Regions from separate parts of the Homo sapiens genome. Here region 2 is linked to region 1. A link means that fine-mapping ties the variant in region 1 to the expression of a gene that starts in the linked region. Tissue or cell type: whole blood. Region 1 holds a variant in brackets; the other region holds the start of a gene. All regions are shown on one strand. Distances are between the middles of the regions.

What was found. PIP is the estimated chance that this variant, and not a neighbour inherited with it, causes the effect.
Region 2: FKBP9 starts here. The variant in region 1 is fine-mapped to the expression of FKBP9 in whole blood (INTERVAL, PIP above 0.99).

The regions. Positions count from the first base shown.
Region 1 is chr7:32,986,921-32,995,132 of GRCh38, reverse strand. It overlaps FKBP9 (FKBP prolyl isomerase 9), which reads right to left. Exons shown (of 10, transcript NM_007270.5): 6 at 6,481-6,626. Among named protein-coding and RNA genes, the nearest start is that of FKBP9, 34 kb to the right of the region's middle. The variant G/C (reference allele first, on the strand shown) is at 4,264.
Region 2 is chr7:32,953,380-32,961,591 of GRCh38, reverse strand. It overlaps FKBP9 (FKBP prolyl isomerase 9), which reads right to left and starts at 4,152. Exons shown (of 10, transcript NM_007270.5): 1 at 3,798-4,152. The coding sequence starts at 4,018. RefSeq lists a silencer at 3,896-4,365 and enhancers at 4,456-4,505, 4,355-5,305.

The sequences.
Region 1 (8,212 bases):
TGGGCGTGGTGGTGAGCACTTGTAGTCCCAGATACTCGGGAGGTTGAGGCAGGAGGATTGCTTGAGGCCAGGAGGTCAAGGCTACAGTGAGTTAGGATTGCACCACTGTACTCTAGCCTGGGCAACAGAGTGAGACTCCGTCCTCAAAAAAGAAAGAAAGAAAGAAATGAAAAATTCAGACATGATATTACTTATTCAAGAGAATAACACAGCTAATGACAAAATTCAGATAGAGATACACAAACTCCAACAGTCCCTCCTTACCTCCTGTCCCAACACGTACTTTTCTGTGTCTGCTTCTTGATTGGTCTCTCTCCTATCTCTAATAGAAACACACTCACGCTCATATTTAATAGGCGTTTATTGAGTACCAGGCATTCTTCTAAATTAAACATGTATTGTTTAATTCTCATTAAAATCCTGAGAAAATGGAGGTACAAATTTTGGGGCTGGCCAAAGTTAAAGGTAATAATTTGAGAAGCGTGTGCTTTAATAGCAGAACACAGGTGCCTGCTACTCACTCAAAACAGGGGCTGCTGGTGTGGGTGGAGTGGGGTGCAGGCTCCTTCCCACAGGAACCAGGAAGTACAGCCTGCCATTGGCCAGAAGGCTGCTCAAAGCCAGGCCACGGATGGCTCTGTGTGGGAAGCTAACACACATGGACAGGGTGGGTGTCTGCAGAGGCAGATCTATGGTTCCTCAACCTTGGTAACCTGTTAAAAATCACCTGGGAATGAACCCGAAAACATTATGCTAAGTGAAAGAAGCCAGACACAAAAGGCCACATACTGTAGGATTCCAGGGATATGGAAACATCCAGCATAAGCAAATCCATACAGACAAGAAATAGACTACCTGTTGCCAGCGTGGGGGAAGTGGATGGATGAGGACAGGGTACGGAGAGTGACCGCTAATGGTTATGGGTTACTTTTTGGAGTGATGAAACTGTGCTGGAATTAGGTAGAGGTAATGGTTATGTTACCTGGTTAATATACTAAAAACAACTAAATTGTAAACTTTAACATGATTATTTTTATAGTATGTGAATTATATTTCAAGAAAACATTAAATAAAAATATCTTTCTTGGGTATATATACAAAAGAATTGAAGCTGGAGATGCGAACAGATATTTGTACACTCATATTCACAGAAGCATTAAGCATTATTCACAACAGACAAAAAGTAGAAACAGCCTAAGTGTTCATCACCAGACGAACTGATCAACAAAATGTAGTATATACATCCAATGGAATATTCATTCAGCAATAAAAAGGAATGAAATTTATTAGCCAGAAATGAGGAATTAATTTTTTTTTTTTGAGATGGAGTCTTGCTCTGTCATCCAGGCTGGAGTGCATTGGCATGTTCTCAGCTCACCGCAACCTCCGTCCCCCGGGTTCAAGCGATTTCCCTGCCTCAGCTGAGATTACAGACGCGTACCACCACACCTGGCTAATTTTTGTGTTTTTAGTAGAGACAGGGTTTCACCATGTTGGCCAGGCTGATCTTGAACTCCTGACCTCAGGTTATCCGCCTGCTTCAGCCTCCCAAAGTGCTGGGATTACAGGCGTGAGCCACCGCGCCCAGCTTGAAATTTTGATAAATGCTAAAATACAAATAGACCTTGAAAACATTATGCTAAGTAAAATAAGACAGACACAGAAAGAGAAATATTGTATGATTCCACTCAAGTGAGGCACTTAGAATAGGCAAATTGGTAGAGACAGAAAGAAAGGTGGTTGTCAGAGGTTGATAGGAGGGAGGAATCGGGAGTTATTGTGTAATGGGTTTATGTTGGGGATGATGAAAGAGTTCTGAGTGTAGATGATAGTAATGGTTATACAACATTGTGAATATATTTGATGCCACTAAACTGTACACTTAAAATGGTTAACAAGGTAAAGATGTTAAGTATATTTTACCACAAATTTTAAAAACTTCTAACACTGAGCTAAGCAGTCACCAAATTTTATCAATTCAAATATAATCTCCCCTCCAAGATGCATTCAGGTGCAGGGCCTTCTCCAGGGCAAAAGGGAATGCATCTGGAACCACCCACATCCCTGGGATCTGATGTCAGCAGTCAAATGAACTCAGCCTCTCAGGCCCCGAGGATTCCAGGCACAAGAATTCCAACCAGTGTAGAGGTCGATTCACACCCAGTCAAGGAACCATGTAGCATCAGGTGAGTATGTCAGCTTCTAGGAAGTTAACGTGAGTCAGTCTCCCAGGTGCCTGATAACCTCTGAGGCACACACATTATTGAGGGCGTCAACAAGGAAACACTCTCTGTGTGCGTAGGAAGTTTTGTTTGTGTTTCTTTCTGCTGAATCCCTAACACCGTGAGCAGGGCCTGGTCATGAAGAAACTCAATAAATCTTTGATGGATGGATAGATGGAGTTTCTCCGCCTGCAAAAATGAAGATCAGAGCCTTGAACCATAGACCCCACCTACCCCAGGCAGCACCAAGGCTTCGAACCTCTATCCCTCTATCTTGCTCTGACTTCCACAAAGCTATTTGTAGATTAAGTATAGAAATGAGTGCTGACCAGCAAACGGGCAGAAATAGTCCAACGTGGCTCCAACACCAACCTCCTCTCTGTATAAACCCTTAACCAATGCAGAAGTCATCATTCTGTTCTCACCATGAGGATGCCTCCCTCAGAAGAGATACAGATGAGAAAAACTTAAAAGCGGCCAATAGCCCACCCAAGAAACTCTGCAGCTCCTGCTGGGGGTGGATTTCCTCTGCTGGTGGTGGGTTTCCTCTGCGGTGGGTGGGTTTCCTCTGCGGGGGGTGGGTTTCCTCTGCAGAGAGTCAGTTTCCTCTGAGGGGGGTGGGTTTCCTCTGAGGGGGTGGGTTTCCTCTGCGGGGGTGGGTTTCTTCTGAGGGGAGTGGGTTTCCTCTGAGGAAGGTGGGTTTCCTCTGAGCGGGTGTGTTTCCTCTGAGAGCTCTAGGACTTCTGGTTTGAGGTCTCGGTTCTCCACATATGGGTATCAACAAGTCACTACCTAATGGGGACTCATTCTTTCTGTCTGTCTAGGACACATATGGGTCAGAGAGCCCTGGGTCCAATTCCAGCTCCATCATGGATTAGCTATTGTGGCCTTGGACACATGGGTGGAACTCTCTGGGCCTCATTATATTTCTAAACAATGAGGGTAATGATGCCTCAGAAGACTGTTTCCAGGTTTGAATGAGTTCATGTGCAAGAAGTCCCAGACACACAGTGGGTAAAATGTAATTTATTAACTTTCCTCTCTTTCCTAAAAGGGTGCTCAAAAGGTAATCTGGAAGTTGAGTAACAGCAAACCATCGATGAAGTGATGCTTACACATCCTCGCAGGCAGAATCCATTCTCCACTTTGAGGCTGCAAACCCATCCAAATGCCCTAATTTCAGGGCTGACCCATGGAACAAAGCAGATGGCAGAAAGATCCAGAACCTCTCCCAGGAGGCCTACCCTTTCCCCTCCACCAATCTTGCAGGGGAAAATGGCTGTGACAGAATGAAATGCTGATAGAGGCTGAGAGCACACGGTCAGCCCACAATTCATTCCTTCCACAAATATTTGCCAAACATTCACAATGTGCCTGGCCCTGTGGTATGCAGTGAAGAAGCCACTAAGAAGACAGTTTCAGCATCCTGACCCCTCTCGGGTCAGCCCCTCAGGGATCAGCACGAGCTCCTATGTAACCCCCACAAAGAGGCCAAGGGTGCTGATCAGGAGAGGACAGAGGCAGACTCCACTCAAGAGCACTTGGGGTTTATACCTCAGGGTCACTCAGGGTGCCCTCCTCCCACAGCAACGTGATTCAGGATGAAGGAGTCTCATTGCCCAGAAAATTTACGAGCCTTCGGCTGCTTCCCAGAGGCTTATATAATTCTTTGCAGAGCTCTGTCTCATACTTGATAGAAAGCCAAGAGGAAAAAAAGTAATTTAAGCAAATGTTTTCCATCAATGCATTCTTTTCAAAGAAAGGAAAGATTAGTCCTCAGGCCATAAAGAAACAAGAACATTCAGAAAGTATTTATCTGTTTCTGTTTATATTTGACTAGAAGTAGAAATCCACACGATAAAAAGCAATAGAGAATCAAGACACTAGACAAGCAGGATGTGTGAAGAAAGCCCTGTCGAATGGATCTTAAGCTGTGATCTGTTGTGGTTTAATCAATCAGAAATTTAAGTCAGGGAGAAAAAAATATTTCTCCATTGTACAACCTACCTTCCAACCAACTTGACGTTTCTTGGATCCTCTG[G/C]GATGAACACTACTGGGAAAACTCTCAAGATACATATGATGTATCAACAAAAAAACAGAACAGAACTAACAAAATAAATGTACAGCCAGCAAGGCCAGCCTCCATCAGCAAAAGAATACAAAAACAAAATAAATACTGCATCAACTATTGCTAAGCGAGGGAGCAGCCATTAAAATACATAGCATAGAAAGTTGTTCACAACATATCTGTTGTTCACCACAAATTAGGTGAAGAGAGAAATCACAAAGTAATACGCATAGACAATCCCATGTTTGTCCGTATTGATTAGTGTAGGTGGGCATTTTTTTTTAAACCTATACATAAACTCAAAGGTACAGAAGGACATTCACTTCATGGCTGCATTTGTTTCCTACTGTTGCTGCAGCAAAATACCACAAACTTGTTGGCTTAAAACAACGCAAACGGATTCCCCTAATTCTGGAAGGCAGAAGCATAAATTCAAGGTATTGTTAGGGATATGTTCCTTTTGGAGGCTGCCGGGGAGAATGTGTTTCCATCTTTTCCAGCCTCTCGGGGCCACCTTCATTCCCTGACAGGGTCCTCCTTCTGTATCTTCTAAGTCAGCAGTTTAGCACTTTTTCCCCGGTCTGACCCCCTGCCTCCCTTTTACAAAGACTGTTGCAAGTATTTTGAGGCCACCTGGATAATCTAGAATACTATTCCTATCTCAAGATCCTTAATCAAATCTGTAAAGTCCCTTTTAATAAGGTAACAGGAGGCTAGGCATGGTGGCTCACACCTGTCATCCCAGCACTTCAGAAGGCCAAGGTGGGAGGATTGCTTGAGCTCAGGAGTTCCAGACAAGCCTGGGAAACATAGCAAGACCATGTCTGTCTTTACAAAAAAAAAAAAATTGCTTTTGAATTAGCCGTGCATGGTAGCACACACATGTAGTCCTAGCTACTCAGGAGGCTGATGCAGGAGGATCACTTTAACACAGAAGCTGGAGGCTGCAGTGAGTTAGGAGCTTATCTTACCACTGCACTCCAGCCTGGGCAACAGAACAAGACTTTGTCTCAAAACAAAATAAAGTAAGGTAACATACTCACAGGTTCTGGGGATTAGAACATAGATACTTGGAGGGGCTGAATATTCTGCCTACCAGATTAAGATTAACAATATTTGTTTCTGGCATGGCATGGCGCTCACATCTATAATCCCAGCACTTTGGGAAGCCAAGGTGGGCAGATCACTTGGGCCAGGAGTTTGAGACTAGCCTGGCCAACATAGTGAAACTCCATCTCTACTGAAAATTAAAAAAAAAAATTAGCCAGGCGTGGTGGCACATGCCTGTAGTCCCAGCTACTTGGGAGGCTAAGGCACGAGACTCACCTGAACCCAGGAGGCAGAGGTTGCAGTGAGCCAAGATCGTGCCACTGTACTCCAGCCTGGGTGACAGAATGAGACTCTATCTCAAAAAAAGAAAAAAGAAAAAAAGGAAAAAAAATCTTTATTTCTGGGTGGCAGGATTTCTTTGCTTAACTGTATTTTCTTTTTCTAAAGTCAACATGTATGATTTGTGTAACTTTTAAAAGGAAGTGTGGTATGAGGGTGACAAAAATGTTCTAAAACAGGATTATAGTGATGGTGACATAACCCACTAAATGTTCTAAAAGTCACTAAATTGTATACTTAAATGGGTGAATTTTATAATATATAAAACAAAAACCAAAGAGGGGCTTTTGCACTTACTTTCAATGGTTCAGCCCAAAATAAATAAATAAATATAAAAAGAGATCAAATATAGCAAAATGTTAACAACTGGCAAAACAAAGTGGAATTCACCATAACGTGCTTTTGACTTTGGTGTAGGATTTAACATTTTCAAAAGGTAAAGGAAAATGGGCAGAGAAACAAGGAGAAATAACAGGACAACTCTAGAAACTAAATCTATTTGGGAATTCCAGTCTTAAGCTGGACTTTAGCTTCAATATTTTGGCTCTCAAGAAGTTCTGTGCAGGGTGTGGTGGTGCGTGCCTGTAGTGCCAGCTACTCTGAAGGCTGAGGCAAGAGGATCACTTGAGGCCAAGAGTTCCAGGCCATAGTACACGATGATCACACACTACACTTTCCAGCCTGTTCAACAGAGGGAGACCCTATCTCAAAAAGAAAGAAGAAAAAGAAAAAGAAGCCCTGTTTCAAGCAATGTGGAAGCAGCCACAGCTAGTGAGGAAGGCAGGTGATGCTGATGCTCACCTCTTCCTTCCTCTCCATACCCCAGGTGAGGCGGGACCACAATCCTTCGCTTTTCTCCAATGCAAACACCAAGTAGACCTTCATCCATCCCAGGAATCACGTAGCCCTGCCCAATGTACGTGTCAAACGTGCGGTTCCGAGAGTAGCTAGAAAAGAAGAAAGGAAAGAAAGAGGTCATTCATGAGGGCCTCCACAGCAGCTGTGCAAATTAGTTGGGAAAGAGATGCAAAGGCACACAGAGGCCTCCAGACTCCGGAACAGCGTAAACCACAGTATCTGACGACACAGCCAGGAAACATGCTCCCCTGGAAGGGTAAATAAGAACCCCCACACAGCATGTGAACAGCCACCTGTAGGGACACGCCATGTGGCCCTCCAGTTTCATCAGGTTATGAATGCAGTGTGGGTTATGAGAAGCACCACACAGAAATGGAGCTAATGTAAATTGAACACTATACTTTCTTTTTCTGAGGCAAGGTCTCACTCTGTCACCCAGGCTGGTGTGCAGTGGCACCATCATAGACAGCTCACTGCAGCCTCAACCTCCCAGGCTCAAGCAATCCTCCCACCTCAGCCTCCCAAGTAGCTGAGACTACAAGCACATGCTACCACACCTAGCTAATACTTTTTTTTTTTTGTAGAGATGGGGTCCCACTATGTTGCTCAGCCTGGTCTTGAGCTCCTGGATCAAGTGATCCTCCTGACTTGGCCTCCCAAAGTGCTGGGTTGACAGGTATGAGCCACCGTGCCCAGCCTGTACACTCTATAACCATGTCAAGTTAATGAAAACAATCAAGCTCTCAACCAGCCTGGGCAACATGGCAAAACTCTGTCACCACAAAATTACAAAACTTAGCTGGATGTGGTGGCACACACCTATAGTCCCAGCTACTCAGGAGGCTGAAGTCAGAGGACTGCTTGTGCCGGAGAGGTTGAGGTTGCAGTGAGCCAAGATCACAACACTGCACTCCAGCCTGGGTGACAGAATGAGACCCTGTCTTGAAAACAAAAGACAGAATCGAACGTAGCCCTTATCAGAAACTACGAATGTGTCACAAGGATAATGTCTCCAATATCTAAAGAGAAAATATCTGCATATGTGGGACATGAATATTCTGTTTTTATTTTCTAATTACTTTTTAATTTTTTTTTTTTTTGGAGACAGGGTCTTGCTCTGTCTCCCAGGCTGGAGTGAAGTGGTCTGGTCTCAGCTCACTGCAGCCTCAACCTCCTGGGCTCAAGTGATCCTTCCACCTCAGCCCCTCAAGTGGCTGGGGCTACAGCATGCAATACCATGCCTGGCTCATTTTTGTATTTTTAGTAAAGATGGGGTTTCACCACGTTGCCCAGGTTGGTCTCGAACTCCTGGGCTCAAGCGATCTGCCTGCCCTGGCCTCCGAAAGTGTGGAATTACAGGCTTGAGCCACAGCACCCAGCCTGACATGAAGATTCCGATCGCCAGGAAAGCAGCATACACACTGAGAGTAATGAATTCCGCACTCTCCACCACAGCCCGACAAAAGGCCCCCACTATCACCCCTGCTCACCCCGCCACCCTGGTGAATACTTGGGTTTTCCAAGTGCTCCTGGCAGGAGCCCCAAGTCCACTCAGTGGAGAGATCCAGCCTGTGTGTAAACTACTGAGTGATTCTATTACCATGAGTTTGGTAAAAAGAGGAATCAATTCCCCACAGCATAATGATTCCAGAATAAAATAATAAAACTTCATATG
Region 2 (8,212 bases), 34 kb after region 1:
TCCATGGCTCAGGGGTTAGGGACCCCTGTTCTATTTATTTATTTACTATTTATTTATTTTTGTAAATTGATATCCCATTTCAGTACCCCTGTTTTAGAGCAGTGGTTCTCAAAGTGTGGTCCTCAGACCAGTAGCATCAGCTGGGAACTTGTCAGAAAAGCAAATTCCTAGGCCCTATCCCAGAGCTACTGAATCGGAAACTGTATAACAAGCTCTCTACGTGATTCAGAAGTATATGTAGTTTAAACACTACTGTGCTAGAGCATCTAGAACTCTGTATACCCAAAAAGGTATGTGGTAGGCACATAATAATATTTATCAAAAGACAAGCCTGGACCTTGGGGTCTGCAGACACACCCCTGAGCTCCTCCCAGGTGAATTTTCATCATCCTTGGGTCTTATCCCTGCCATACCAGGATTCCATCCTAACCTCCCCCACACACAGACACAAAAATATATAGTTAAACCTTCTCTGTGCTTTCATAGCTACTTACCTTTCTTCTGTCATATACATGGGTGGACTACAGACCATAGATTATGGCCATGAACTACCTGGGTTCAAATCTCCACTCAACCACTTAGTACTTATGTTCCTTGGGCAAATCATTTGAACTTTCTGAGCCTCAGTTTATTCATTTGTAATGAGGTACCTACCTCACTGTCTTGAGAAGTTAAACAAATTATTCTAAGATTAAATGAGTTAACATATGTGAAGGCACATGGTAAGAACTATGTGTGAACTCTATGAGAGACAGAGTGTGTGCTACTGTCTTACTGTACTTATCACACCATGTTGTAATAGCCTAGGCTGTAAGTGGTAGGGATGGGGAAGAAGCATACTAGACTAGGACTAGTCTCTCTCTTGAGGGATAGACGCTGAAAAACGTTTGATGAATGGATGGTAGATCCTCCATGCTCTTTCAACTGCCCTACACTACCTCACAGTGGCTGCCAGCCCTAGAGATGTTCTAGATAGTAGGACAACTTGTTCTACTGGAATTAATTACCATCAACTCAAGCAAGAAATTCTTCCCTATGAAAGAAGCACATGAAAGAAGATACACAAATGGTCAATACGCATATGATGCTCAACATCGTTAGCCATTAGAGAAATGCAGATCGAAACCACAATGAGATATCATTTCACACCCACTAAATGGTTATAATCAAAGACACAGGCCAGGCGTGGTGGCTCCCGCCTGTAATCCCAGCACTTTGGGAGGCCGAGGTGGGCAGATCACCTGAGGTCAGGAGTTCAAGACCAGCCTGGCCAACATGGTGAAACCTCGTCTCTACTAAAAATACAAAAATTAGCCAGGCGTGGTGGCAGGCACCTGTAATCCCAGCTACTCAGGAGGCTGAGGTAAGAGAATTGCTTGAACCCGGGAGGCAGGGAGGTTGCAGTGAGCTGTGATCGCACCATTGCACTCCAGCCTGGGTGACAAGAGCAAAATTCCATCTCAAAAAAAAAAAAAAAAAAAAAGACAAGTACAAGTGTTGTTGAGACCGTGGAGAACTATGAACCTTCATACACTGCTGGTGGGAATGTAAAATGGTGCAGCCATTGTGGGGAAACAGGTTGGCTATTCTTCAAAACGTTTATAACATAGGTGCCATAGGACGCAGCAATTCCAACTCCTAGGTATATATCCAAAAAAAGGAAAAGGTACATCCACACAAAACCTTGCACATGAATGTTCATAACATCATTCATGATAGCCAAAAAGTATAAGCAATCCAAATGTCCATCAACTGATGAATGGACACAATGGAATATTACATATACAGCCACAAAAAGGAATGAAGTACTGATATACCTTACACCGTAAATGAACCATGAAAGAAGCCAATTATAAATAAATAACAAAGCACCTCAAATTATATGATTCCATTTATACAAAATGTCCAGAAGAGGCAAATCCATAGAGACATAAAGTGGATTCGTGGCTGAAAGGGACTGGAGGGCAGTCTAACTGGGGTTGGGGAGTGACTGATAATGGGTCCAGCGTTTCTTTTTTGGGGGTGATGAAAATGTTCTGGAAATAGCTAGTTGTGATGTTTGCACTACTCTGTGAATATACTAAAAAACACTGAATTGTACACACCAAATGGGCAAATTGTATGGCATTATATCTCAATAAAGCTGTTTTTTTTGTTTCGTTTTTTGTTTTTTGTTTTGTTTTGTTTTTTGAGACGGAGTCTCCCTGTCACCCAGGTTGGAGTGCAGTGGCACGTCTCGGCTCACTGCAGGCTCCGCCTCCCAGGTTCACGCCATTCTCCTGTCTCAACCTCCCGCGTAGTTGGGATTACAGGCGCCCGCCACCTCGCCCGGCTAATTTTTTGTATTTTTAGTAGAGACCGGGTTTCACCGTGTTAGCCAGGATGGTCTCGATCTCCTGACCTCGTGATCCGCCCGCCTCGGCCTCCCAAAGTGCTGGGATTACAGGCGTGAGCCACCGCGCCCGGCCTGTTGTTTTTTTTTTTTAAAGTAACTAAAATGGTAGTAAGAATGACCATTTCTAAGCGCTTGCTAGTGCCACATACTATGCTGAACAGCTTTTGTATATTCATTGTCTGGAACTTCAAAAAAGTCAAGAGTCTACAAAATATTCGTAATGACCCTAGGCCTTGGGGCACATAGCAGGGGCTCAACAAATAGCTCTCTCTGCCTGATCTAGTGTTCGCGAAGGGAAGTGCTGGCACAGACCAGGGTTTGTAACAAAAGCCTTGGCGAGGAGTAGCCTGGTGCTGGACGAAGAGAGGCCTGTTAACCCCGAACCTAAACTGGAGGGAAACGGGAGAGCAGTGCTGTGATCCTGAGGCAGAGCTGAGAGAAGGAGTTCTGGGCTTGATATAGGGCCTGGTATAAAGCAGAGTGACGGTCCTGGACTACCTCCTGCCCACGAGAGGTGTCGTGTTGTGTTTTGTTTTGTGATGGGATCTCTCTCTGTCTCCCAGGCTGCAGTGCAATGGCACGATCATAGCTCACAGCAGCCCCAAACTCCTGGGCTCAAGCGATCCTCCCGCCTCGTTCTCTCAAAGTGCTGGGACTACAGGCGTGAGCCACCACGCCCAGCCCCAAGAGAGGTTTTTGTATGGCAGGAAAGGAAGGGCAGTGGTAGTTGCGCACACAGACTCTGGAGTTGGATTAAACAATCTGACTCCATTGTTTAAACACGTTTCTTAGCCGCAGTTGCTTGTTACCTTACTGATAAAATGAGGGTAGTGATAGTACCTACCTCACAAGACTGCTGTACAATTAAATGAGTTCACTACAATATGGAAAGTACTTAGAACTACACCTACACATTGTTAACAGCTCATTGTATGTTTGGGGCTGCTAGCCTCTTCATCATTGTTCTGTGTGAGAAGCACCATCTGACTAGATTCCCAAGGGAGCGGAGGGAAGGAACAGGAAAGGGCGAAGAGAGGCAGGCACGAACATCCACTCTTGGGGGTCCAGTTGTGCAACGTGGCCTCCACTTACACTGATTATTTTACACTGATTTTGCGTGTGTCCATGCGCTGGGAGGAAAGGGAGGACGTGGTCTGCCCCAACCCCGCTGCTCAAGGTCCTCCAAGGGTCCAGTCCCCGGCTGGCAGCCTAGGGCACGTGAGGGCCGGGAGGCTCACCCGCGGCGGAGGGTCTGGGGTCCGGGAGGATCTGGGCAGCGGAAGAAGGGAGGAGCGCGGCTGCACGGGGCGGAGCTAGGGGAGGTCCGGCAGGAGGGAAAGGCCTGTCCGGAGAGAGGGACGCGCATCCGCTGAGGCCGCGCCGGGCGCCAAGGGCGCGGTACCTGGAGTCGAACTTCTGGCCGTCGGGGAACGTCCCCACGTAGTGGTAGCGCACGAAGTCGCCGCTGCGCACGGTGCGCGGGCACTCGTCGGGCACGAAGCGCCGCTCGATCTGCAGCTCCGCGTCGGAGCCCAGGCCCGCCACGGGCGCTGCCTGCCCGGTCACCCAGAGCAGCAGCAGGAGCAGCGGTGGCGGCGGGGGCCTCCAGCCCCGGAACGCCATCGGGGCGGCGAGAAGAGTGGCGCGGACGCAGCGCGGCGCTCGGGCGGCACGGGTCGGCCTGGGCGTTCGGCTGCGTTTGCAAACGTGGACCGGGTCTCCTGGCCCTACCCGGGCTGCAGCCGCCACCCCGTCTCCCCGGCCGCCCGCCCTCCCGGCCGCAGCTCCAGGGGAGGAGCCCAGCCTGGCCGCGCGCCGAGGGCGGGCCTGCTGCGCCCTGCCCCGCCCGGCATTGGGAATGTGCGTGCCGCAGCGGGGAGGGGGGCTGGGAACTCCAGTGGGGACCAAGTCTGGGCCTAGAGAGGGCGTGTCCCCGAGCGAGACACTGTGATCTCCGGACAAGGCTTTGGCCCAAAGTCGGAAGAGAAAAGCGCGTACTGCCCAAGCCCACCCGCTGGTCTCCGCCCGTCCCTGGAGACACCGGGTTTGGTGCCGTGAGGGGCTCCTACGTGGCCGTGGATCCAATTTTCCCTTGCTGCTTTGGAGAGGGAGGGAAAATTAGATTTTAATTTTTTAAGCTTAGTTACAAGGGTATGGTCTACCTTGAAAGAGACCGAAACCATCCTTCAGGACTTTTTTTTTTTTTTTTTAATACTGCTTAAAGGAAAAGGAAGGCCGGGCGCCGTGGCTCACGCCTGTAATCCCAACGCTTTGGGAGGCCAAGGCAGGCGGATCACGAGGTCAGGAGATGGAGACCATCCTGGCCAACATGATGAAACCCCGTCTCTACTAAAAATACAAAAAAATTAGCCAGGCTTGGTGGCGCGTGCCTGTAGTCCCAGCTACTCGGGAGGCTGAGGTAGGAGAATCGCTGGAACCCGGGAGGCGGAGGTTGCAGCGAGCCGAGATCGCGCCACTGCACACCAGCCCTGGCGACAGTACGAGACACTGTCTCCAAAAAAAGAAAAGGGAGGCATGTATTGCGAGAGGCTCCCGTGACACTTGTCTAGGCAAAAGTTTTAAGGCACCGTGAGGGTCCTCCAAGCCATCAGCGGCCGCACTGTGAGCTGATACTTGCAGACATCCTACAAGCTCCCATATACGAGCCTATGCCAGGGAGGACTTCATCATAGAGACCCAGAAGCCACAGGAATCCATTAGAGTAATCAGATGCACTTGGAATTGGAATTGGGTGTTATAATTTATTAAAATTTTGGAATAATGAAAGCAAATCACCAACTCTTTCTCAACTCGTTTTGGAAGCAAACACAATTCTGATACCAAAACCTGGCAAAGAGAGCAACAAAAAAGAAAAATAAAACTGAAAAAACAGGGCACGATCTAATTTATAAATATAAATGCAAAAATACTGAATAAAACGTAATAAAATCGGATTCAACCGCATATTAGGCCAGGCGCAGTGGCTCACACCTGTAACCCTAGCACTTTGGGAGGCCGAGGTGGTTGGATCACCTGAAGTCAGGAGTTCAAGACCAGCCTGTCCAACATGGTGAAACCCTGGCTCTACTAAAAATACAAAAATTAGCAGGGTGTGGTGGCACGGCCTGTAGTCCCAGCTACTTGGGAGGCTGAGGCAGAAAAATTGCTGGAACCTGGGAGTCGAAGGTTGCAATGAGCCGAGATTGTGCCACTAAATTGCACCACTGCACTCCAGCCCAGGCGACAGAGTGAGACTCTGCCTCAAAAAAAAAATAAATAAAAAATTTAAAAAACGGTATGTTAAAGGAAAAATATACCATTACATGGGCTACCTAGGTGAGCTTCTGTAAATTAACAAAATGTCAGTGTTCTCTGTAAGATGAAGATAAAACAATCATTATAAGATTACTATAATCTTAGGTTTCAGGGATCGAATGAGAAACTACATGAATAACAAGAAAAATGTTCATTGTTCATCTTAGAGCTTATTCTAGAAATAGAACACCTATTAATAAAATTATAGGACAGAAGAAGGGAAAAAAAGCTCTAAGATCATGTGGCCATAGACTCAAAACGGCATGAGATAAAATTCAACATCTACCTCTGATTTTGAAAACAAACAGAGGGCCTGGTGGCTCACTTCTGTAATCCTGGCACTTTAGAAGGCCGAGGCAGGAGTATCACTTGAGCCCAGGAGTTTGAGACCAGCCTGGGCAACATGGCAAAACCCCACCTCTACGAAAAAATACAAAAATTACTCACCCCTGTAATCCCAGCACTTTGGGAGGCCAAGGGGGGCAGATTGCTTGATCTCAGGAGTTTGAGACCAGCCTGGGCAACCTGGTGAAACCCCGTCTCTACTAAAAGTACAAAAATTAGCTAGGTGTGGTGTTGCATGCCTATAATCCCAGCTACTCCGGTGGCTGAGGCAGGAGAATCGCTTGAACCCCAGAGGCAGAGGTTGCACTGAGCCAAGATCGCACAATTGCACTCCAGCCTGGGTGACAGAGCAAAACTCTATCTCAAAAAAAAAAAAAAAAAAAAAAGAAAAAACTTTCTGATTGTAGTCTATTAAGTCTATTAATGGCACTGACCACCAAAAAGTACTTTTGCATGTCATCTTTGTGTTGTCAAACAATACCTTGATTTTGAAGTATATAATCATTGATAATAAAAATTGTTATACATTTTATTGGCATGAATTCAGACATTCAGTTCATTCACTACACATATACTTTGGTCCAGTCTTTGCTTCACTTATGTCTCCGTGGCTTCAGGCAAGTCAGGTAACTTCTTACTTCCACCCTTGACTGTAAAACAGATGATACTTATCTTGCCTACTGACCTCTTACGGCAATTTGGGGAAATATCTTGGTGCTGAATTAGTTTCTAGGCTCAGACGCTAAACATACAATACATATTAATTGGTAAAGACTTGGGATTTGAAACTTGATCTTTTGAACTAGATGCCAAGAAGTCCAATCTTCATGACAACTCTGTATAAGGTCATAGGTGTAATCACTACTTTACAGAAAAAATAAACTCCAGCCTGGGCAACTGAGTGATACCCTGTCTCAAAAAGAAAAACAAAAACCAAACAAAAATTAGCCAGATGTGGTGGTGTGTGCCTGTAGTCCCAGCTATTTGGGAAGCTGATGTTGGAGGATCGCTTGAGCCCTGGATGTTGAGGCTGCAGTGAGCCATGATTTCACCACTGCACAATTGGCCTGGGTGACAGAGAGAGACTTTGTCTCAAAAAAAAAAAAAAAAAAAAAAAAAAAAGGTAGAGCAGGGCGGCCTGCACCTGTAGTCCCCGTTCAGCTACTTCGGAGGCTGAGGTGGAAGATCATCTTCAACCTAGAAGATGGAGGCTGCAATGAATTGTGATCACACCACTGCACTCCAGCCTAGGTGACAGAGTGAGAGCCTGTCTAAAAATATATATAAAATAAAATAAAAATGAATGTCTGCTCGTGGTGGCAGGATCTAGGAGCCTGTAGTCCTAACTACTTGAGAGCCTGAGGTGGGAGGATCTCTTGAGCCCAGAAGTTCAAGTCCAGCCTGGGCAACATACCACGACTCTGTCTCAAAAAAGAAAAAAAAAATCTTGCTATTAAAAAATGTCACAAATTTTTTAAAGACAAATGATAAATTAAAAAAATACTTGGCCAGGCGCTGTGGCTCACGCCTGTAATCCCAACACTTTGGGAGGCCGAGGCGGGCGGATCGCGAGGACAGGAGATCGAGACCATCCTGGCTAACACGGTGAAACCCCATCTCTACTAAAAATACAAAAATTAGCCGGGCGTGGTAGCGGGCGCCTGTAGTCCCAGCTACTCAGGAGGCTGAGGCAGGAGAATGGCGTGAACCCGGGAAGGGGAGCTTGCAGTGAGTTGAGATCGCACCACTGCACTCCAGCCTGGCGACAGAGCAAGACTCCATCTCAAAAAAAAAAAAAAAAAAAAAAAAAAAACAACTTACGGCCAGGCATGGTGGCTCACGCCTGTAATCCCAGCACTTTGAGAGGCTGAGGCGGGTGGATCATGAGGTCAGGAGTTCAAGACCAGCCTGGCCAAGATGGTGAAACCCCGTCTCTACTAAAAATACAAAAATTAGCTGGGCGTGGTGGCAGGCATCTGTAATCCCAGCTACTCGGGAGGCTGAGGCAGGAGAATCACTTGAACCCCAGGGACGGAGGTTGCAGTGAGCCCAGATCACACCACTGCACTCCAGCCTGGGCAACAGAGTGAGACTCTGTCTCAAAACAAACAAACAAAAAAACCCTTACAACTATATGACAAAACAAATGTGTAAGCA